Regions from separate parts of the Homo sapiens genome. Here region 2 is linked to region 1. A link means that fine-mapping ties the variant in region 1 to the expression of a gene that starts in the linked region. Tissue or cell type: whole blood. Region 1 holds a variant in brackets; the other region holds the start of a gene. All regions are shown on one strand. Distances are between the middles of the regions.

What was found. PIP is the estimated chance that this variant, and not a neighbour inherited with it, causes the effect.
Region 2: it holds the start of CIMAP1A, and the variant in region 1 is fine-mapped to the expression of CIMAP1A in whole blood (INTERVAL, PIP above 0.99).

Annotation. Positions count from the first base shown.
Region 1 is chr11:215,078-226,320 of GRCh38, reverse strand. It overlaps SIRT3 (sirtuin 3), which reads left to right. Exons shown (of 7, transcript NM_012239.6): 5 at 2,082-2,243; 6 at 7,280-7,489; 7 at 9,603-11,243. The coding sequence ends at 9,623. RIC8A (RIC8 guanine nucleotide exchange factor A) reads right to left here. Exons shown (of 10, transcript NM_001286134.2): 10 at 11,208-11,243. Among named protein-coding and RNA genes, the nearest start is that of MIR6743, 11 kb to the right of the region's middle. The variant C/A (reference allele first, on the strand shown) is at 4,999.
Region 2 is chr11:190,600-201,604 of GRCh38, reverse strand. It overlaps CIMAP1A (ciliary microtubule associated protein 1A), which reads right to left and starts at 4,844. Exons shown (of 7, transcript NM_053280.5): 1 at 4,559-4,844; 2 at 4,192-4,308; 3 at 3,844-4,044; 4 at 3,305-3,406; 5 at 3,020-3,141; 6 at 2,096-2,236; 7 at 1,347-1,661. The coding sequence starts at 4,300. The coding sequence ends at 1,572. It overlaps SCGB1C1 (secretoglobin family 1C member 1), which reads right to left and starts at 8,527. Exons shown (of 3, transcript NM_145651.3): 1 at 8,451-8,527; 2 at 7,694-7,893; 3 at 7,030-7,187. The coding sequence starts at 8,505. The coding sequence ends at 7,155.

The DNA of each region.
Region 1 (11,243 bases):
GCCGTAGCAGGAGAGGAGGTCAGACGCGCCTCACTGTACCCCTCCCTCCCCAGCCACCATTAGGCTTCTTCACTAAGGGCTAAACAGAAACCAGCCCTTTTCAAAGACTCTACACTGCTAATGTGGATTACTGGTTTATCTTCCCAGATACAGATTAAAGACAAGATGAGATTAATGGTTCCTTCACCCTTCCCTGAGAGGTCTGCTTAGTTCTCTTCCTCTGTTTCCTTCTATCTTAGGTAAAATGTACATTTACTGGGCACTTACTGAAGTCTCACAAGTACGTAACCACTCACCTCACAGCCACCCTCCCTCTTTGAAGGACCACATGTAATTACTAAACCTCCTGAGAACCTCTTGGGACAGAAACAAGCACAGATGTGCCGTGACTCATGTTTTTCCTGTGGGCACCCTCAGGCTGGCTCAGTAGCCCTCACTTGCTTGAGATCCTGAATCTGCGGGTTGGCGTCTTTCATGGTTGCTGGATCATACTCTGCCGTTATCTCTTCGGATATGAGTTGCCCCTAGCCCACTATCTGGCCCCTCTCTTTAGGGACCTCTGATTGAACATACATTAGACCTTCTCTCTCCTGCTGTTCCTGATCACTCTTCTGTCCTGTAATTGCTGCTTCTTGTGCTGCATTCTGGGTAATTTCTTCTGGTCTTTTTTCCAGTTTACTAATATTGTATTCTGTTATAAGGTCCTTCCATTGAGTGTTTCTTTCTTTCTTTTTTCCCAAACAGCAACTCAAAACAGACATTGAGTTTTAATTTTGGTTCCTGTACTTTTTATTTCTAGAAGTTCTATTTGGTTATTTTTCAAGTCTGCTACATTATTACATAATTTTTTAATAATTTTATATCTTTAATAGATAGTTTTTTGTTTTGTTTTGTTTTGTTTTGTTTTTTGAGACAGAGTCTCGCTTTGTTGCCCAGGCTGGAGTGCAGTGGTGCAATCTCAGCTCACAGCAACCTCCGCCTCCCAGGTTCAAGTGATTCCCCTGCCTCAGCCTCCCAAGTAGCTGGGATTACAGGCACGCATCACCACGCCTGGCTAATTTTTTGTGTTTTAGTAGAGACAGGGTTTCACCATGTTGGCCAAGACAGTCTCGATCTCCTGACCTCGTGATCTGCCCACCTCGGCCTCCCGAAGTCCTGGGATTACAGAGCTGAGCCACTGCGCCTGGCCTTTGATAGATATTTCAAGTTCATCTTTTTTTTTTGCTTCCTTAATTTTTTTTTTTGCTATACCCCATGCCTCCAAGATAACAGTTTTTTCTTTTTAATTTAAATATAATACAGTTTTACTGTGTATCCAAGAATATCTGAAATCTTTCGTGGGTCTCTTTCTTTTGTCTTTTGTATCTGTTGCTTTTTGCTGGGCTGAGCCTGCTTAAAACAAGCCCCGTTAGCTGTAAAGGTTTACCTTAGAAAGTCAGGTGTCTTCCTCTGTAACTCTCTCCCTTTTCCATCTGCTCCAAGGCATTTATTTATATTAATCTTGACGCAAAGGGAAGTTGTGTCCACTTCACCTTGGCCAGTAAGGAAGCAGTGTTTGGCAGATGTTGTTACTCCTAATAATGCCAGCCAGTGAGTGAAGCTGACCTGAATGCCTCCCAGGGCTGAGGCAATGGCATGATCACCGAAGCTCAAACCAGAGACAGTTTCACCTTTCTGACTGAATAGTGTTCGGTGTAGGCCAAATGCCTGCAGACTACTGTTTGAGGACTGGTGTGGTCTACCAGGTGTTTCCTTAGCGCCTGGATGTCTCTGGCTGCCATCCCAGGGATAGAGCATGGTGTTAGATACGCTAGATGCCTGCCGAAGTAATTATGGGTGAAACATATGATGTCCAAGATTTGCTTTTAAAGGCTCCAATACCTCCTCCCAGATTCCGGAGGGCTGTGAAACAATTAGCTATGAAAACTGGTAATTCCTGAAGCTGGGTACATGGGGGTTCATGATCCCTCTCTCACCTTTTTTGGGGGAGAATGTTTGAGACTTTAATAAGAACTTGTTGCCTTTTCCTTTTACAGGGTGTTGCAGGCATCTTCCTCAGGCCTGTTTTCTCTGTTTTCCAGGCTGACGTGATGGCAGACAGGGTTCCCCGCTGCCCGGTCTGCACCGGCGTTGTGAAGCCCGACATTGTGTTCTTTGGGGAGCCGCTGCCCCAGAGGTTCTTGCTGCATGTGGTTGATTTCCCCATGGCAGATCTGCTGCTCATCCTTGGGACCTCCCTGGAGGTTTGTCAGCAGGCCTGTGCAGGGAGGAGGCTGGAGGGCAGGGGAAGGGAGGGGTACAGGAGTCATCTCATGGGCTGTCGGCAGGCCTGTGCAGGGAGGAGTCTGGAGGGCAGGGGAAGGGAGGGGTACAGGAGTCACCTCATGGGCTGTCGGCAGGCCTGTGCAGGGAGGAGGCTGGAGGGCAGGGGAAGGGAGGGGTACAGGAGTCATCTCATGGGCTGTCGGCAGGCCTGTGCAGGGAGGAGGCTGGAGGGCAGGGGAAGGGAGGGGTACAGGAGTCATCTCATGGGCCCTTCCAGGGCTGGTGCCACTTTGGGAAGGTGAATGGATTCAGCTGGGGTTCCAGGCTGAGGGAGCAGCAGCCTGTGCAGGAGACAGGAAGGTGGGAAGCTGCTGGGCTTTGGAGGTGGTATAGGTGTGGGTGGGGCACCACGTGTGAGGAGAAGGGAGAAGGATGGGGGTGTGGGGGCGAGGTGGAGGGGCAGGGCCTCCCAGGTCAGATCAGGAATACTGATGCTGCAGTGGGAGGAGTGATAAATCCACAGGGACTGGCCCGGGGACGTAGCTGCACCCTTGGGGTCAGGGAGGCCTTTGGGGAGTGGAGAGTGGAGCAAGCAGTGCCAGGAGGCTGGTCCTGGAGAAGGTGGAGCTGTGGTCGCCTGAGGGATGGCGAGGAGGGGGACTGGACTCGCAGTCTGTGATGTTTTGGGGACGTGAGAAGGAGGCGTCTGGCTTGGTCTGTAAGGTCAGGGCACTTGCTGGTGAGGCGTGATTTGGGAGGGAGGATGCCCAGCTCGGTTCTGTGTGTGTCTGAGGTGTCGGGAAACATGCCCTGGATGTGTTCAAGCAGCTGTTCTGCGTCTGCGTCTGCAGCTCAGGAAATTCCTAAAAGCTGTGATGAGAGCAAGAAATGAGACCATGAAGTCAGTGTGTGCGTGACTGGATGTAGGCACCGAGGACAGAAGGGCCAGAAAGACCTGTGCTCAGAGGGGCCCAGGGCAGCCACAGGGGCCCAGAGCATGTGTTTGTTCAGGCATTCATTGTGTGCTGGGCCCTGCTCCAGTGCTTTGGACATACACGGTCAGATGTCAGTGTAAGAAGTTATATAGTTTGTTAGGAGATGATTGATGTTATGAGAAAGATAACAAGTAGGATAGAAAGGCTAGAAGGGTTGGGAACCAGCTGCAGTGTCAAGTCAGGCAGGTGGAGTTGGATCTAAGAGTTTACCGAGGTGAGGAGGGTCTGGCAGGGGACACTGCACAGGTGACAAGCAGCAAGGAGGGTGGGGCGAAGTCAGCATTGATGGCCACGGGGCTGGAGCAGAGAAGAAGGTGGGGCACAAGTGTCATCTCATGGGAGGCTGGCGCCACCTCAGAAGGTGAATGGGTTCAGCTTGGGTTCCAGGCCAGAGTCTGAAGTTGAGAGGACTCCGTTGGGTGCTGGGCTGTGAGCCCACCATGGGGGCAAGACTGGGAGCAGCAGACCCAGCAGGGCCCTTGTAGGTAATCACCGGCTGGCACTGGCTGGGGGCCAGGTAAAGCCAGCAGAGGCTGAGGGGTGCTGGAGTCTGGGTGTGTGTGAACGCAGAGTGGGTACGCTGGCACAGTGCATGGGAGGCCGTGGATTCCCAAGGACCCCAGGGCTGTGGCTGGAGCAGCTGGAAAGACGGAGCCGCCGCTTCCTGAGATGGAGAAGCCTGGTAGGTGGGTTTGGGGGAGCTCAGGAACTCAGCCTTGTTTCCACGGATTTGAGGATGTGCTGCGGACTGGAGGTGTTGAGCAGGTGGACATGAGTCTGGAGTCCAGGAAGGCCCAGAGGCAGGAGCTGGGGTGCTGGAGTGAGCAGACAGGAGAGCCCAGGGTGTGGACAGACATGAGAATGCCATGCTAGGCCTAGGATGGAGGGACAGACACAGGAGGAGCAGTCAGAGGGGCCATGGTGGTCAGCACAGTGTGGGCTGAGACCAGCTGACCGTGCTGGCCACCAGGTGTGGACACTTGGGCCACCAGCCATCTTTATTGTTGAAGTGAAATGAAAATGGCCTTTTTCCTGATTATAAGTGTATCATGTGTGTCTTTGAAAAGATTCGTACATTATATAAAGATATAAAGCAAAGGATCAACTTTTTAATCCCACCAACTGTTAGCATTTTATTCTGTGTCCTCTCAGCTTTCTTTTTTTTGTACAAATGCATACGTACAGATGGTAATTTTAAACTAAAAGTTGGACAGCACTGTACATTCTATTCTGCAGCCTGCTGTTTTCACGTAACAATGTGAGTCCATGGAGATGTGCTGCGTTGTTAATGCCAACAGTTTCCCTTACACGGATATGAGGTCCCAACTGAGAAACCCATGTCTGTAAGGCTGGTGCCATCATGAACTGAATGAGCTGGTGTCACGCACAGACTCTATCTCATGTGCTTTGTGGACGAAATGTTAATGTGTTTGACTGTGGAGTACCACTCCAGATCCCCTTTAGGTGTGACATAACGTGGGATGTAAACCATATGATCTTTTCTAAAATCTCAAAAATTCTGAAACATATTCAGCCACAAGAGCTTTAACATAGATTTTGTGGATTTAATACAAAATTTATGTAAGCAATTTCTTACTGATGGACAATGATAATAAATAGTATATAATTTTTACATTAAAAGTAATGCTGGGCCAGGCACCGTGGCTCACACCTGTTATCCCAGCACTCTGGGAGGCCAAGGCAGGAAGATTGCCTGAAGCTAGGCATTTGAGACCAG[C/A]CTGGGCAGTATAGTCAGACCTCGTCTCTACAAAAAATAAAAAGATAGCCAGGCATGGTCTGTGTAGTTGCAGCTATTTGAGAGGCTGAGGAAGGAGGATTGCTTGAGCCCAGGAATTTGAGGTTATAGTGAACTATGATCATGCCACTGCATTCCAGCCTGGGTAACAGAATGAGATCCCGTGCTGTAGTGAATATCCCTGTGTATCATCCTTATCTACTCATGCAAGTACTCCTGAAGGGTAAATGCTGTAGTGAATATCCCTGTGTATCATCCTTATCTACCCATGCAAGTACTCTGGAAGGGTAAATGCTGATAAATACTGAGAACTTGCCTTCCGGTGAATATCCCTGTGTGTCATCCTTATCTACCCATGCAAGTACTCCTGAAGGGTAAATGCTGTAGTGAATATCCCTGTGTATCATCCTTATCTACCCATGCAAGTACTCTGGAAGGGTAAATGCTGATAAATACTGAGAACTTGCCTTCCGGTGAATATCCCTGTGTGTCATCCTTATCTACCCATGCAAGTACTCCTGAAGGGTAAATGCTGTGGTGAATATCCCTGTGTATCATCCTTATCTACCCATGCAAGAACTCCTGAAGGGTAAATGCTGATAAATATTGAGAACTTGCCTTCCAGAAAGATGTAACAATTACACTGCCACAAACTGTGTTTTTATGTAGCCATTTTATCACATCCTCACCAAAACCAAAATCACACAAATCAAATTGGTTAAAAAATGCATGTGTGTGTGTGGAGGGGGGTGCGGATTTTGCCTTTCTGTAGTAAAGAATGAAGTTCATCTTTTCATGTTTATTGCCAGTTGTGTTTCTTCTCTTTGGATTGTATATTTGTACCTCTTGACCATTTTTCATTGGGTCATTATAAATTAGCAATATAAATTAGTTTTAATTTTAGTATAAATTAAATAATATAATTACATTTTAATGTTAATATAAACTTCTTTCTTTTTTTTTTTTTTTTTTTTGAGACAGAGTCTTGCTCTGTCTCCCAGGCTGGAGGTTCAGTGGCGCGATCTCGGCTCACTGCAACCTCCACCTCCCAGGCTCAAGCCATTCTCCTGCCTCAACCTCCCGAGTAGCTCGGATTATAGGTGCGTGCCACCACGCCCAGCTAAGTTTTGTATTTTTAGTAGAGACGTGGTTTCACTATGTTGGCCAGGCTGGTCTTGAACTCCTGACCTCAGCTGATCTGCCCGCCTCGGCCTCCCAAAGTGCTGGGATTATAGGTGTGAACCACCATGCCCAGCTGTTAATATAAATTTCATTATAAATTAGCATTATAAATTAGTTCATAAATTATATGTTTATAAATGAGTTTATCAATTAGCAATATAAACTATTGTCATATGTTGTAAATATTTTTGCAGTTTATGATGATGAGAGGTTTTTAAAAATTTTAAATTTTCTACATAGTAGTTTTATGTAGATACCGAGATAATAGTATTTACATAGTCAGATCTGTCATTTTCCTTTGCCTTATCTGACTTCAGTTTTTACGCCTAGAACGTTCTTCCCTATCCTTACTTGTAAATCCTTAGTTTTCTTCAAGAACTGTTTTGTTTACATTGAAACCTTTAATCCATTTGAATTTTTTTCAGTGGGAGGTAGGAATGGAGTATTTTCCTCCCAGATAATGAGCCAGTTTTAATGCCATTTATTAATGTATCCATTTTTTTACCTTGTTCCTCTTAAAAGAAGCTTTGAGAGCTGTATGAAGAAGCCTGATGGCACCGAGCTAGGCCTCTCTAGAGGCTGGGTGGGGAAGACCATGGAGAGACGTAACAGTAACTCCTGCTCGGGGGCACCAGCTCGTCTGGGTGCCCGATGCTGGTGGTGGCTGTCAGAGCAAGCAGGGCTAGCCAGAGGAGATGGACGAGTCTGTGCTGTTGTCCCTCTGCGTCATGCTGGGAGACAGCGAGGTGGGGAGGACAGGGAGAACAGAACGTGCTCACAAAGAGGAGGCAGGAAGGTTGGATCCCTGATGAGCCTTGGAACGGAGGTGGGGAAAAGCAAGGATGTGTGGAAACAGCAAGAAGTGGGAGAGAGAGAGAGAGGCGGAGGGGAGAAAACCGTCACGGAGGCCAAGCGGCAGGAGCTCAGCTGAAGAAATGAGATTGGTGGTGGGTTTTCCCTATATCGCAGGCTCTGACTGCCAATCTGCTGCTCCTCCAAGGCCTCGGTGGCTGTGGCATGAAACATCCTGAGGAGCTTGTAAAGTGGACACTGTGCCCCTCACGTTTGGCCCATTTTTCAGGTGGAGCCTTTTGCCAGCTTGACCGAGGCCGTGCGGAGCTCAGTTCCCCGACTGCTCATCAACCGGGACTTGGTGGGGCCCTTGGCTTGGCATCCTCGCAGCAGGGACGTGGCCCAGCTGGGGGACGTGGTTCACGGCGTGGAAAGCCTAGTGGAGCTTCTGGGCTGGACAGAAGAGATGCGGGACCTTGTGCAGCGGGAAACTGGGAAGGTACAGACTGCTGAGGAGGACCATCCAAGGGGCTGCCCTTCTCACTGCTCTAGGGTATGGTCCACCTGATATGGAGCCCCGTTGGTTAACACAGTAACAGTAATAGCTGATGATGCTGTGAATCCTGCACCAGGCACTACCTGGACCTGACTGGGTGTTACTTTCAATACCTCCATTTAGAGATGAGGAAACAGATGCTAACAGGCCAAGCAGGGACACGGTCCAGACACTCAGGGCTGATGAGTCTGTATTCTTAACAGACTATAGGCGTTACCTTCACTCCCTAAAATAAAGCAGCCAACAGTGTCCCTCTAAGGCCTGGTATGTGATTCTAAGATGATACGGGTTAAAGAACTTTGAGAAGCTAAAGTTCTCTGCATCTATGTGGGATGAAGGCTACATGAGTGATGCTTTTCGGAAGTAATTGGTATGAGAGCCATTGATCAATTATAATCCGCTGAGGAAAGCCAAAGAGCCTTGATGCTTTCTAAGAGATTTCAAACCGCCTATAAACAAGTGAAGTTACAGAAAATGCAGTTTCCCATAAGAATCATGTAGCATGTGTAGCCTTGATATTAAGGGTTTTCAATGGGAGGTGGTAGCATTAAGCATTTAAAGTCCAGTGTCATGATTACAGGCAGGTGTAACACTGTCCAAAGGGGATTTCACCAGTGTATTAGTCTGTTCTCTGGCTGCTCATAAAGGCATACCTGAGACTGGGTAATTTATAAAGGAAAGAGGTTTAATGGACTCACAGTTCCATATGGCTGTGGGGGCCTCACAATCATAGTGGAAGGCAAAGCAGGAGCAAAGTACTGTCTTACAAGGTGGCAGGCAAGAGGACGTGTGCGGGGGAACTGCCCTTTATAAAACTATCAGATCTTGTGAGACTTATTCACTATCAGAAGAAGAGTGTGGGAAAGACCCGCCCCCATGATTCAGTTACTTCCACTTGGCCCCACCCTTGACACATGGGGATGATTACAATTCAAGGTGAGATTTGGGTGGGGACACAGCCAAACCATATCAACTACAATATATCACAGTTGATGCTCCTCTTGCCTTCCAAGGCAGATGTCTTAGGAAATCCTGATCCTTTTTCCTTGTCCACAGCTGTGGCTGCCTCATGGCTCAGGGCCATGGGGTCAGCACTCTCCTCACCTCCACCAGTCCAAGACCTCCAACCTCTGGTTGCAGGCTGATTTTTTACCAATCATGGTCACTTCATTATGGAGGCAGGGAACCCAGCTAACAATGAGGCTTAAACGCTGAGAGGCGAGTGCCTCCTGGCCAGCTCACAAGGCAGCGGAGATCTTAGATCAGCCCAGCAGGCTTTTTTGAGGGATCCTTTTCCTGCTCCAACTTCATATTTTCTTTTTTTTGTAATGGAGTTTCACTCTTGTTGCCCAAGCTGGAGTGCAATGGCACGATTTTGGCTCACTGCAGCCCTGCCTCCTGGGTTCAAGTGATTCTCCTGCCTCAGCCTCCTGAGCAGCTGGGATTACAGGCATGTGCCACCATGCCTGGCTAATTTCTGTACTTTTATTAGAGATGGGATTTCATCATGTTAGTCAGGCTGGTCTCAAACTCCTGACCTCGGGTGATCCACCTGCCTCAGCCTCCCAAAGTGCTGGGATTATAGGCATGAGCCAGCAGGCCCGGCCCAACTTCCTGTTTTCATAGAAAAGCAGATTGTAACTCTGGTAGCTCCTGTGGAGTTTTGGAAGTGGCTTAATAGGATTTGAACTGTATAATCTAGTTTCAGAGAAATGTATGTAAAATGGGTTATGATTTCATTTTCTGTTTTTTACAGCATTACTATCCAAGGGGTTACTTTTCCAAATAGTGAATGCTTTTAAGCACATGAGCATCAGTACATATTGATTTGGGTACTTTAAGACCCATAGAATGAGGCTCTCCATTTAGCCACCCTGTTCTGCCCAGGCCTGCTGGGATCCTCTTAGCCCAGCACAGCAGCAGCAGTATTTGCAGAAAGCAGCTTGTTTTGTGAAATATTTTGCATGTCTGCAGCTAGAGCTGTTTGAACAGAGATCTGCTGGCCTGCCTGGGTGTGTAAACAGATAGCTGATACCCTCTGTCTTCTGTATTCCAGCTTGATGGACCAGACAAATAGGATGATGGCTGCCCCCACACAATAAATGGTAACATAGGAGACATCCACATCCCAATTCTGACAAGACCTCATGCCTGAAGACAGCTTGGGCAGGTGAAACCAGAATATGTGAACTGAGTGGACACCCGAGGCTGCCACTGGAATGTCTTCTCAGGCCATGAGCTGCAGTGACTGGTAGGGCTGTGTTTACAGTCAGGGCCACCCCGTCACATATACAAAGGAGCTGCCTGCCTGTTTGCTGTGTTGAACTCTTCACTCTGCTGAAGCTCCTAATGGAAAAAGCTTTCTTCTGACTGTGACCCTCTTGAACTGAATCAGACCAACTGGAATCCCAGACCGAGTCTGCTTTCTGTGCCTAGTTGAACGGCAAGCTCGGCATCTGTTGGTTACAAGATCCAGACTTGGGCCGAGCGGTCCCCAGCCCTCTTCATGTTCCGAAGTGTAGTCTTGAGGCCCTGGTGCCGCACTTCTAGCATGTTGGTCTCCTTTAGTGGGGCTATTTTTAATGAGAGAAAATCTGTTCTTTCCAGCATGAAATACATTTAGTCTCCTCAAAGGGACTGCAGGTGTTGACATGAGTTGGAAAGGGAACCCTGGGATACGTGGCGTCCCCTCTATTGGAACAGTCTGAGGACTGAAGGCATTTGTCCCTGGATTTATTGGAGACGGCCCAGCTCCTCCCTCTGAAGGTGGTCACATTCTGTTGACTCTCCATACTCAGCCTCTCCTCCAGAAACAGATCTGTTCCAGAACATTCCAGCACTTTCTATCTGGCCTCCTTGTCCCCACACTACGCCCCCCCACCCTCGCCAGGGCTTCCTCTAGTGACACTGTTAGAGCTAATCTCTGAGACAGGGAAGGCATTACTCACTTAAAACCCAGGCTGAGTCCTGGCCACCTGCTGGATTGTGACATAGGAGGTGGAATCCACTGAACTGCTACTTCTGCACAGGCTCCTTCTCCTGGGGCTGTACCCAGGCCCAGCCCTGATGGCTCACCCTGTCAGGCACCAGCTGCTCCCTCCTGGGCTCTCACCCACCTGCACATCCTCCTTCCTAGCATCACATTACCTGCGTGTTTCCCCAGACAAAAGCACTTCCCATTCTTGAACCTTGCCTACCCTGGGCTGAGCTGACGGCAATAGATTTAATGACAGTGACTCCCAGGAAGGGGGTCCTGTGACTTTGCGCCTTAATAAGAACAAAAGGTGGAATTGGTGACCTAGGAAAACTGTTGAATTCTAAAAAGAATGAAGTTAGTTTCTAACCCTAGTTAATGTTCCTTTTTTATTTTTTGAGTCTTGCCCTGTCACTCAGGGTGGAGTGCGGTGTTATGATCTCAGCTCACTGCAACTTCCGCCTCCCGGGTTTAAGCGATTCTCCTGGGTAGCTGGGATTACAGGTGTGTCCCACCACACCTAGCACATGGGCATATTTGTAATAGAGACAAGGTTTTGCTATGTTGGCCAGGCTGGTCTCGAACTCCTGGCTTCAAGTGATCCACCCACCTCGGCCTCCCAAAGTGCTGGGATTACAGGCATGAGCCACTGTGCCTGGCCCCTTTATTTGATAATTTACACATACATTTTTGTCCAAAACTCTTCTTTATTTCAAGATGATG
Region 2 (11,005 bases), 25 kb after region 1:
CGCGGTGGCTCATGCCTGTAATCTCAACACTTTGGGAAGTCAAGGTGAGTGAATCACAAGGTCAGGAGTTCGAGACCATCCTGACCAACATGGTGAAACCCCGTCTCTACTAAAAATACAAAAATTAGCTGGGTGTGGTGGCACGTGCCTATAATCCCAGCTACTCAGGAGGCTGAGGCAGCAGAATTGCTTGAACCTGGCAGACGGAGGTTGCAGCGAGCTGAGATTGTGCCATTGCACTCCAGCCTGGGCGACAGAGCGAGACTCTGTCTCAGAAAAAAAAAGAAAAAAAAGAGAGTAAACATGAAGTGCTTCGAATACACAGCCTGGCACGATCACAGCGAAGTGAAGGTCAGCAGTTGTACTGTGCTTTATACAGGTGCAGGTGATGGTCCTACCAGTGTGTCTGTTGAGGTCACCCGTCCTAAAGTGACCTCCCTGAAAGCCTGAGTTGAAATCCAGACTCCACTTCTTGAGGCCTGGCCTTGGACTCTTGGGCAGCCTCTGGAAATCCTCCTCTTCAGGCCCAGCGGATACCCCACCTTCCCTGTCCATGTCTTCCTTGTACTCCCTGTATGACCCATTGATGTGTAACAGGTCACCCTAAAACTTCACCTAAAATAGCAATGATTTATCATGTCTCATTGAATTTGAGACGGGGCACGCTTCAGGGTTGGCTGTCTTTGCTCTACAGTGTCGAGGCCTCACTGGGAGATGTGGTCCTGGGGCTGCCTTCACTTGAAGGCTCACTCACAGGTCCAGAGGTCAGTGCTGGTGAGTGGAGGGCCTGGCCGGGCTGACTGCCTGTGGCCGGGCTGACGACTGCCTGTGGCCGGGCCGACTGCCTGGGATGGTGCATTCAGTCTCGCCATGGTTGAGCTTCCTCACAACATGATGGCTGGTGCTGGAGCAAACATGGACACGTGGCAGAAGGGTGGGGGTGGGGTGGGCTCTGGTGTCCAGGCGGAAGCTGTTTCCTTGGTATGTTGTGTGCGTGGCCTCAGGAGCCTGGTGGCATCACTTCTGCCATACCTCATTACTCAGGACACCCACAGGCTATAGTCCAGATTCAAGGGAAGGGACCCAGCATTGCTCAGAGGTGATGAGCACAGGTGTGGCCATCTTTGGGTTCAAGGCAGAAAGCATCAGGAGGGACAGTGTGGAGCAGGGTGTCTGAGGTACTCAGGCCCTACCATCTCTCCCCACACAGACCCTGGGCCCTCCCATCTCACCAAGCTGACCCTGGGCCCTAGAAGGCAGGATGGGACCCCTTGTGGGCAAGTGCTGACAGCCTACGGGGGCTCCTTTCTGGAAATGCTTGATCCTTCCACCAAGACAAACCCTTATTAATGCAATCTGATTTATTAATAATTTGGGCACAGCAGAAAACAAGATTAAAAAATGGTAAAATAGCATAGAAAAAAAGTAACTGATTACAATTGCCCAAACAAGCGTGCTCTGCCCTGCAGGGCCAGGCTGGCCCAGCCCAGCTGGTGAAGACAGCCTCGAGCTCTGTGGCCCGGCGGATCTTGTGTAGATGCCGGGTGTGATGGGGCACAGCAGGGCTGGCGTTATTCCACATCAACCAGCAGGGGAGTCATGTAATCAGAGTGTTTGATGCCGAAGGTGACAACTGGGGCGCAGGGCTTGGTCAGGGTCACCTGGGAGAGGAGGGGCTATGATAGGAACCAGCACCCCTGCCCCCACCTGCAGGTCTCTGCCCTGGCTGGGGCTGGGCTGCTGTCCTTCCTGAACCTGGGGCCAAGGTGGCCAGAAGCTATGCTCCCAGGTTTGAACACAGAGCACTCAGCAGTAGTAGCTGTCACAGTGTCTAGGGAAAAGGGCAGGGTCTCTGCTTCCATGTCCCTGAAGGGTTACCTGTGGGCCTAGTGCTGGAAATGTACAGGGTCCTCAGGGTGCAGGTGCCTCCCATCCCCACCCCACCCCTCCACCCCTTCTTGGCTGTGTCCTTCCATAGCCTGACCCTGTTTCCCCTCGTCTGTGTCCCAGCCCCCCTCCCTGCTCTTTCCTACACATCCCTCTGGGCCAGGACCCTGCCCCACCCTGACCCCTCTGAGCTGTGCTCTTCCTGGACCTTCTCAGGGCTGTGGGCGCCTGGTCCTGGCTTGAGGGTCTTGTCCCCTGGGGGCTCCACACGGGCAGCCATGGTGTACTGCGGAGCCTTGAACTTGGTCACCCGCACATCAGTTTGGCGGTAGGCTGCGGGACCTGGGGTCTGAGAGGTAAAGGAGGCTCAGACCAACTCGGCCTACCCAGGGCGTGTGGCCCTAGAGGACAGGGAGCAAACTCAGGCTCTGAGTCAACAGGGTCAGCTACAAGTTGGTGCCCGTGCATCAAGGTCCCCTTCTGTCTTCTGTCACACTGTGGAGATCACACCCCACTGCTTGTGGGGTACCTCATGTGGGGGTCACTTCCTCCATTTCAGCCTCACGCTGGCAATGGCATCCCCAGTGTGTGCCAGTCCTGGGAACATCGCTGAGCGTGTGTGAGAGAGGCTGTTGCTGCCCTGTTGGACCTGAGGGCCTGGGGCTGGCAAAATCAACATGGACGAGGGCTGTTGGGTGCCATGATGCTGCTTCCCCATCTCAGGCCCCTCAAGCTCTCAGGCATGTGCCACCCAGGGGCTTTGCACTGGCTGTTTCTGAAACCAGGACCCTCCTCCCCCAAATAGCTCATGGTTTATTTTTTCCTCCTCCTCTTCTTTCCATGCTACCCTATCTAAGATTGCCTCTCTCTCTCCAGACAGTGCTTCCTAAACCCCATCTCTTGTCCTCAGCACGGTCCATGCTGGGGCCAGGGCGTCTCCCTTCTGGCCTGTTGCCTGCCCCTCCTCACCACTGCAGTGTAACCCCAGCACGTGGCAGGTGCCCAGAGGGTGAAGGGCTGAGGGGGCTGAGGGGCATTGGCAAGGCAGGGCCGAACTGGTGGGTCCTGGGTTCCGGGGGAGGGTTCAGATGGTTGGGGGTGATTCTCTGTTCTCAGTTGGGGTGGCCCTTGCCTTGTGTAGGTCGTCGCTGAAGCCGCCCAGCTTGCTGCGGCCCTTGATGGAAAAGGAGGGCTGGGAGGCCTTGCCGACGGTATTGGGCCCCATTACCATGGGCAGCATGTACGCAGCGGGGCCTGCAGGGTGGACGTGGAGCCTCAGGCCGGAACAGGGCCCACTGCTCCTTCCCTGGGGCTCTCCCCCAACTCTGGAGATCAGCCGTCGGGCTGCCCCATGTCACACACCCCACCCAGGATCCCCAGGTCCATTTGGCTGAGGATGGTTGGGGCTGCTGCGGACCTGGGGTGCTGTCCACTCGGAATGCCTTTGTCCGGGCAGAGATGGAGTGGCTGGGTGCTGAGTCGAACACGTACTTGGTGGATTTCTCTGGAAAGTAGTCACCTGGACAAGGAGCCAAGGGGGCTGCTGGGACAAGCAGGTGGGTATGCAGCCCAGTTTGGGGGCTCAAGGAGGACTCCCCAACATTCTAGGCGTGGGGCCTCTGGGCTCCAACACAGGTGGTGACCAAGTCGGGTCAGGGGGTGTCCAGGATGGAAATGCTGACTTCAGGGCTGGTGAGACAAAGGCTATTTTTGAGCAGGGAGAGTGGGGTCTGACGTCGGCCTGGCAGAGAAAGGTCCAGGTCGGAGCTGGACTCTTGGGCCAGAGTCTTCTCTGCCCAGGCACGATGGTGACCCCTCAAGAGAGAAAGATGGGACGGGAGGGGCCAGGATGGCTGAGCTCTCCCACACCCTTGCTGACATGAGGTTAGGGGCACCCAGCAGGGAGGGGCAGGCCTGAGGCTGCGCAGGGCAGGAGCCTGAGACAGGGTCACTAACCTGGACCAGGAGTCAGCATGGTCTTGGTTTGGTAGCGCCCCAGGATGGAGTAGGCAGGGCCAAGGTCCTTGCCAGTCCTCAGTATCTTGGGGTTTACATTGTAACGGGGCCCTGGGGAGCAGTTCTCTGCCAGGAGCATGGGGGCCCCACGGAAGCTGTAGGCCGGTGCACGCAGCTTGGTGGGCGTGTGCTTCATGAAGCCTGTGGACGCAATGGGCCCTGAGCAGCCCGGAGCCTGACCTGCCCTTCTCCCCGCTGGGAGTCAGGGATTGAGCCCCAGGCCCTTCCCGGGACCCCCACCTGCCCGCCTGGCTCCTGACCCTCTCCCACAGTCTCTCAGGCTCTTACCTGTTGTTGGTGGAATCAGGTACTTGGGTCCAGGGCTGCTGTAGAGGGCCATGATGGGTCCCCGGGGGCGATGGGGCCTCCAGGTACCCATCCATACCTCCTCCGTCATGGCCAGCTCTGTCCGTAAGTGAGAGGGTTACCAGGTGCTGGGAGGCCCGGCCCTGTCCCATGCCGGCCCCTGATGTCCCCGACCCTGCTCTTGCTGACACTGAAGGGTAAGACCTGCGGAACCTGCTGCAGCATCAGTGGGGATCTCCAGCTGGGAGCCAGGAGTCAGGGACAGTAGGAGCTTTCTGCATGGGTCTGTGAGCTCCTCACCAGCTTAACTGTAACCCAGAGTTGCTGTCCATGCTGGCCCTTAACTCACCACTGTTCTCGGCTCTAAGGGAGCCCTGGGCCGGTTTCTCCTACTTGGAGTGGTCAAAGATGGGGAACTTCTTGATTGAGGCTGAGCTGAGGGGCAGGGAGGGGGCCGCCTGGGAGGGAACTATAACTTCTTCAGTGCAGGGACAGCACTCAGAGCAGCCTAGAGACCCATCCTCATCAGAGACTGTCCTTTCCCCCCTGGCCTTGGTGCCAGGGAGTTCCCGCAAAAGGAGCATGGAGAGAAAGGCCTTCCTCTCTCCTCATGGGCTTACAGAATTGGGGAGAGGTCCCCCACTCTAAACTCTAGAATGTGGCTCTGTGGGATGACAGGTTCTAGATTCTGTCTATGTGACCAAGACAATGGCTTCTGCCTTTGATCCCCTCACCAGATCTCACCACCAGGTCCCCCCAACAGGACACCCCTATAAGTCCCCCTGACCATGTTCCCCTCACCATGTTCCCCTCACCAGGTCCTCCTCACCAGGTCCCCTCACCAAGGCTCCCCACCCATGTCCTCCTCACCAGGTCCCCTCACCAGGTCCCCTCACCAAGGTCCCCCCCATGTCCCCTCACCAGGTCCCCTCACCAAGGTCCCCCCCATGTCCCCTCACCAGGTCCCCTCACCAAGGTCCCCCCCATGTCCCCTCACCAGGTCCCCTCACCAAGGTCCCCCCCATGTCCCCTCACCAGGTCCTCCTCACCAAGGTCCCCCCCATGTCCCCTCACCAGGTCCCCTCACCAAGGTCCCCCCCATGTCCTCCTCACCAGGTCCCCTCACCAAGGTCCCCCTCATGTCCCCTCACCAGGTCCCCTCACCAAGGTCCCCCCCATGTCCCCTCACCAGGTCCTCCTCACCAAGGTCCCCCCCATGTCCCCTCACCAGGTCCCCTCACCAAGGTCCCCCCCTATGTCCCCTCACCAGGTCCCCTCACCAGGTCCCCTCACCAAGGTCCCCCCCATGTCCCCTCACCAGGTCCCCTCACCAAGGTCCCCCCCATGTCCTCCTCACCAGGTCCCCTCACCAAGGTCCCCCCCATGTCCCCTCACCAGGTCCGCTCACCAAGGTCCCCCTATGTCCCCTCACCAGGTCCCCTCACCAAGGTCCCCCCCATGTCCCCTCACCAGGTCCTCCTCACCAGGTTTCCCTAAGTTCCCTCACCAGACCACCCCTCACCAGGCCCCCTCACCATGTTTCTTTCACCAGGTCCCCTCAACCAGGCACCCACCCATGAAGTCCCCCTCACTGGGTCCCCTCACCAGGTCCCCTGTAACCAAGTCCTCCAGGGCCCCCTCCCTAGGGCTCCCTCAGCCAAATGGAAATCCAGGCAGATACCATGTAGGCAGGTGGGACAGAGCACAGAGCCGACAGCACCGCATGGCCCCCTTGCCAGGCTCAGACAGGACAGAGGTGTGGAGAGGAGGGCCGGGGCAGTGAAGTGTCAGGGCTCAGCACCCAGGGTGGCCAAGGATGGGGCGGTTCCACTCAGCTGTGCCCCCAGAAGAGACCATAGATTGGGCAGCTGAAATGCTGGAAGGTTCTGGCTGTGGGAGAGTCTGGGATCCAGGGTCAGGATCAGGGTCTGTGCTGGTTGTGGTGGGTGTGAGTCAGTGTGGGCGCTGGGGCTGCCCTGGCTGACCTCAGAGGCTGCTCACCTGCGGCTCCCAACCCCCTTGGACATGGGTGTACCTTTTTCTTGGCCTTGTCAGGGGTCCTCTTGGGGCTCGACACCAGCTTTCAGATGCTGAGCACCCCCGCCCTGACCTAGCCCATGGGCGACATGGGGTCTGTGTCCACCCAGTCCTGGACACTTCCTCTTTCTGGGGCTCCCACCTCATACCGCTGCCTCTGCCGCCCGTCTCCCTCCGGACGCCCCCTCCAGACGCCCCCTCCGGACGACCACGCAGTGTTGTCTGGCTCTGTGCTCTGTCCACCTGCCTACGTGGCGTCTGCCTGGATTTCCATTTTGGGTCTTGCCTGTGGTGTGCCTGCTCCTGTGTGGACCCTGTGTGTACCTCTGTGGGGACTTTCACACGTGTGTTCCTTGAGTGGGATCCTCTGTATGTGGGTCTGTGTGTGTGGCTGTGGCCCTGTGTTCCTGATGTCCCCATTTGTGTGTACCTCTGTGGGGACTTTCACACGTGTGTTCCTTGAGTGGGATCCTCTGTATGTGGGTCTGTGTGTGTGGCTGTGGCCCTGTGTTCCTGATGTCCCCATTTGTGTGTCCCTCTGTGGGGGACTTTCGCACGTGTGCTCCTTGAGTAGGATCCTCTGTATGTGGGTCTGTGTGTGTGGCTGTGGCCCTGTGTTCCTGATGTCCCCATTTGTGTGTCCCTCTGTGGGGACTTTCGCACGTGTGCTCCTTGAGTGGGATCCTCTGTATGTGGGTCTGTGTGTGTGGCTGTGGCCCCGAGTGTGTTCCTGATGTCCCCATTTGTGTGCCCCTCTGTGGGGGCAGAGACAGGAGCCTGAGCTGCGGAAGAGGCTTTATTGATTAAACGGTTTGAGGATACATTTCCATGTGGGAGGTGGTAGTGGGCGTTGTGTCCACGGCTGCTTGTGTGGCAGGTCCTATGGCTGAGCCATGTCTGAGGTCCACTTAGGCACCGTCCTGACTGCCCAGCACTTGCACCTGGAAGGCAGACACATGTGGACTAAGAGGGCTGTGCTCAATAAGTGGAGAGCCACAGCTCCATCAGGCAAGCAAGGCCCTCAGTGGGGGGGGGTCTGGCATATTGCTGCCTATCTCCTCCCAGCAGCTGGGAGGTGTGTGTGCACATGTGATGGTGTGCACACATGTATGTGTGTGCATATCCCAGTGTGAGCATGTGGGTGTGAACGTGTTTATACATGTGTGCACGCAGTGTACATTTCATGTCTGCACCTGTGTTTGGATCTCTGTGTATGTTCACATGTGTGCATGGAGGAGTATCCCACAGACTGGGGAGGAGGTCTATGGAGTCTGGGGGCTGCTCGGTGGACAGGAGGTCTGGGGTGTCCACCTGAGCTGGCTGATGCGGGTGCAATGTCTGTGGGTGGTGGATGTCTGTGGGTGGGGTAGGCTGTGTGGGTGCTGTGTTGGGTGGTCTTGGTAAGGCTGCAGATCTTTAGAAAATGGGGTGCCCGCCGCCCTCATACCAGCAGCTTGACCAGCTCCGCCTTGTGCATTGGCTGCAGGCCATCTATACAGGACTTGAGTTCAGTCATTGCTGCCTTGGCATCTTCGTTGACATTGTACTTGCCCAAGGTCCCCTCATAGAGCTCCTCTGGGGTCCCCACCAGTAGTGTTTGCAGGAAGTCCATGAAAAACTCATCGTTGTCCTCCCCTGTGGCCATCCCTGCATCACGAGCGAGATGATGCCAGGACAGGACAGGGTGACTCTGGTGCAACCACAGCCCTGGACCTGCCCCAGGGCTCCAACCTCCATGGTCTCCAGACCTTCCCCTTCAATGCCCACCTCTCCTCCCCAGGGCTTCCTCCACAACACCTCCAACTCCACCTTGCCCGAAGACCCCTCCACATCCCCCTTAATCTTAGCTGCTCCAATTTCCACTCAGCATTCCCTGGGATCACCAGGGAAGGAAAGTTAAGCTCCTGGTGTGGGGGAAATTTCCCCTGATGAGAGGCTATTATGACCAGAGGCTTGAAGGGTCAGGTCAGGCTGGACTGGGCTGGGGTAGGAGACACTGGGCTGGTGTTGGGTCAGCTGGGCTTTGTCCTTGGTTGGGGTGGAGTAGGGTGGGCGCGGGTTCTGCAGGGTCCTTGCCCACTTCTGTGACAGAAGCAGGTGGAGTGTTCACTGCAGAGGCCCGATGCCAGGATTTTACCTTCTCAGGTACCCCCCACTCCCCCCCACCCCTGAATGTTCTGGAAACCCCAGTGGCACAGACTCACGGCAGATGCAGAACAGGGTGAGGGCCACCAGCAGGAGGGCACGGCTCCCCTTCATGCCAGCAGTCTCAGGAGCTGCCTCCAGCCAGAATCCCGGGATTTTATGCCTCACCGGACAGCACCTCTCCTAGAGGGCGGACCGGACCTGCCCATTAGGACCCGGCAGCCAGCTTAGATGAGGTTTGTTCACATCCCTGGCCCCCAGTGGGTGCCAAGCAGCAACAGGCATGGAGTGGCTGTGTGACAGGTGGTTGGCAAGCGGCTTTAGGGTGTGTGAGAGAGAGAACAGGTGTGTTAGGAGGGAACACTGGTGAGAGGCCATGCCAACTGATCGGTGAAGAAGGCAGTGGGTCCTGGCCACCAAGGGCCTCTAGTCATGCCTGCCCTTGAGGCCGAGAGTGGTGGGATCTGGGGTTGGTCCCACGCCTTTCTTTTAAGGTGCGAATCCCTCCTCTTATCAGTGTGCTGTGTGATCTGGGTCTGCATCTGGGGGTCTCCAATCAGGCAGGGGCCCCTTACTACTCAGATGGGGTGGCCGAGTAGGGGAAGGGGGTGCAGGCTGCACGAGTGGACACAGCTGTAGGACTACCTGGGGGCTGTGGATCTATGGGGTGGGGAGAAGCCCAGTGACAGTGCCTAGAAGAGAGAAGGTGGCCTGAGAGGGTCTGAGGAACATAGAGCTGGCCATGTTGGGGCCAGGTCTCAGCAGGAAGTGAGGAATGGGACAGGCTTGAGGTACATCTTCCATCAGTAGCCAGGATAGCAAGGAGGGCTTGGGGTTGCTATCCTGGGGTTCAACCCCCCAGGTTGAAGGCCCTGGGGGAGATGGTCCCAGGACATATTACAATGGACACAGGAGGTTGGGACACCTGGAGTCACCAAACAAAACCATGCCAAGAGAGACCATGAGTAGGGGTGTCCCAGTCCAGCCCTCTGACTGAGCTGCATTGTTCAAATCCAAAGGGCCCCTGCTGCCACCTAGTGGCTGATGGCATCCACATGGCCCTGGGCCACACGCGTTTAGGGTCTCTGTGAAGACCAAGATCCTTGTTACATTGAACGACTCCTAAATGAGCAGAGATTTCCACCTATTCGAAACAATCACATAAAATCCCATCCTGGAAAAAGCCTGGGGGATGGCACTAAGGCTAGGGATAGGGTGGGATGAAGATTATAGTTACAGTAAGGGGTTTAGGGTTAGGGATCAACGTTGGTTAGGAGTCAGGGATACAGTAGGGTCACCGGTAAGGGTTAGGGGTTAGGGGTAGGGGTTAGGGTTAGGGTTAGGGTTAGGGGTTAGGGGTTAGGGTTAGGGTTAGGGTTAGGGTTAGGGGTTAGGGGTTAGGGTTAGGGTTAGGTTTTGGGGTGGCGTATTTTGGTCTTATACGCTGTGTTCCACTGGCAATGAAAAGAGTTCTTGTTTTTCCTTCAGCAATTTGTCATTTTTAAAAGAGTTTAGCAATTCTAACAGATATAGACCAGCTGTGCTATCTCATTGTGGTTTTCAATTGTAACCACATTGTGGTTTCAATGTGTTTACTTGCCATCTGTAGATCTTCTTTGGTGAGGTGTCTGTTCAGATGTGTGTGCATTTTTAGTTGGGCTGTTTAACTTATTGTTTAGTTTTAATAATTTTTTATATATTTTGAAGACAAATTCTTTCTCAGATGTGTATTTTGCAAATATTTTCTTCAATATGTGGCTTGTCTTTTTGTTCTCTTAACAAGGTCTCTTCCAGAGTATAAACTTTAAATATTAAGAAATCCACACTGTCACTTCTTTTGTGTATATCTACCTTTTGTGTCATTTGTTAAAATTCATTACCAAACCCAAAGGCAGATAGCTTTTCTTCTATTGTTTCTTCTAGAAATTGTATAGTTTTGCATTTTTAGTGTAAGGATGATTTTGAGTGATTATTTGTGTAAGTTGTAAAGTTTTCGTCTATATCCATATCATTTCTTATGGTTTCCAATTAATCGTTCCCTCACTATTTTTGGGAAAGACACAGGATAGTGGGCTTTGTTAGAGTAGATAGGTAGCTAGACATGAACAGGAGGGGGCCTCCTGGAAAAGGGAAAGTCTGGGAAGGCTCACCTGGAGGGACCACCAAAAATTCACATATTAGTAGCATCTCTAGTGCTGGAGTGGATGGGCACTTGTCAATTGTGGGTAGGAGGGAAAAGAGGTACCTATGCAGAAAGAAACACCCTAGAACTCCTCTGAAGATGCCCCAATCATTCACTCTGCAATAAAAATGTCAGAATATTGCTAGCTACATGCTGATAAGGCCAAAGGGGACATTCTTAAGAGAAACCTGGCACCATAAGTACAGATTAGGGCAGAGAAGGACATTCAAAAGAGGCAGGCGCAGTAGGTACAAACGTGATCGCTGTCAGTGTGCCTGGGATGGCGGGAAGGAGGCTGGTGCCAGAGTGGATTCGTATTGATCACCACACATGTACCTCAACCAACAGTGAGGAGGTCCCACAAGCCTAAGTGGGGCAAGTTGGGGAGCTAAGGCAGTAGCAGGAAAACCAGACAAAGAAAACAGGTGGAGA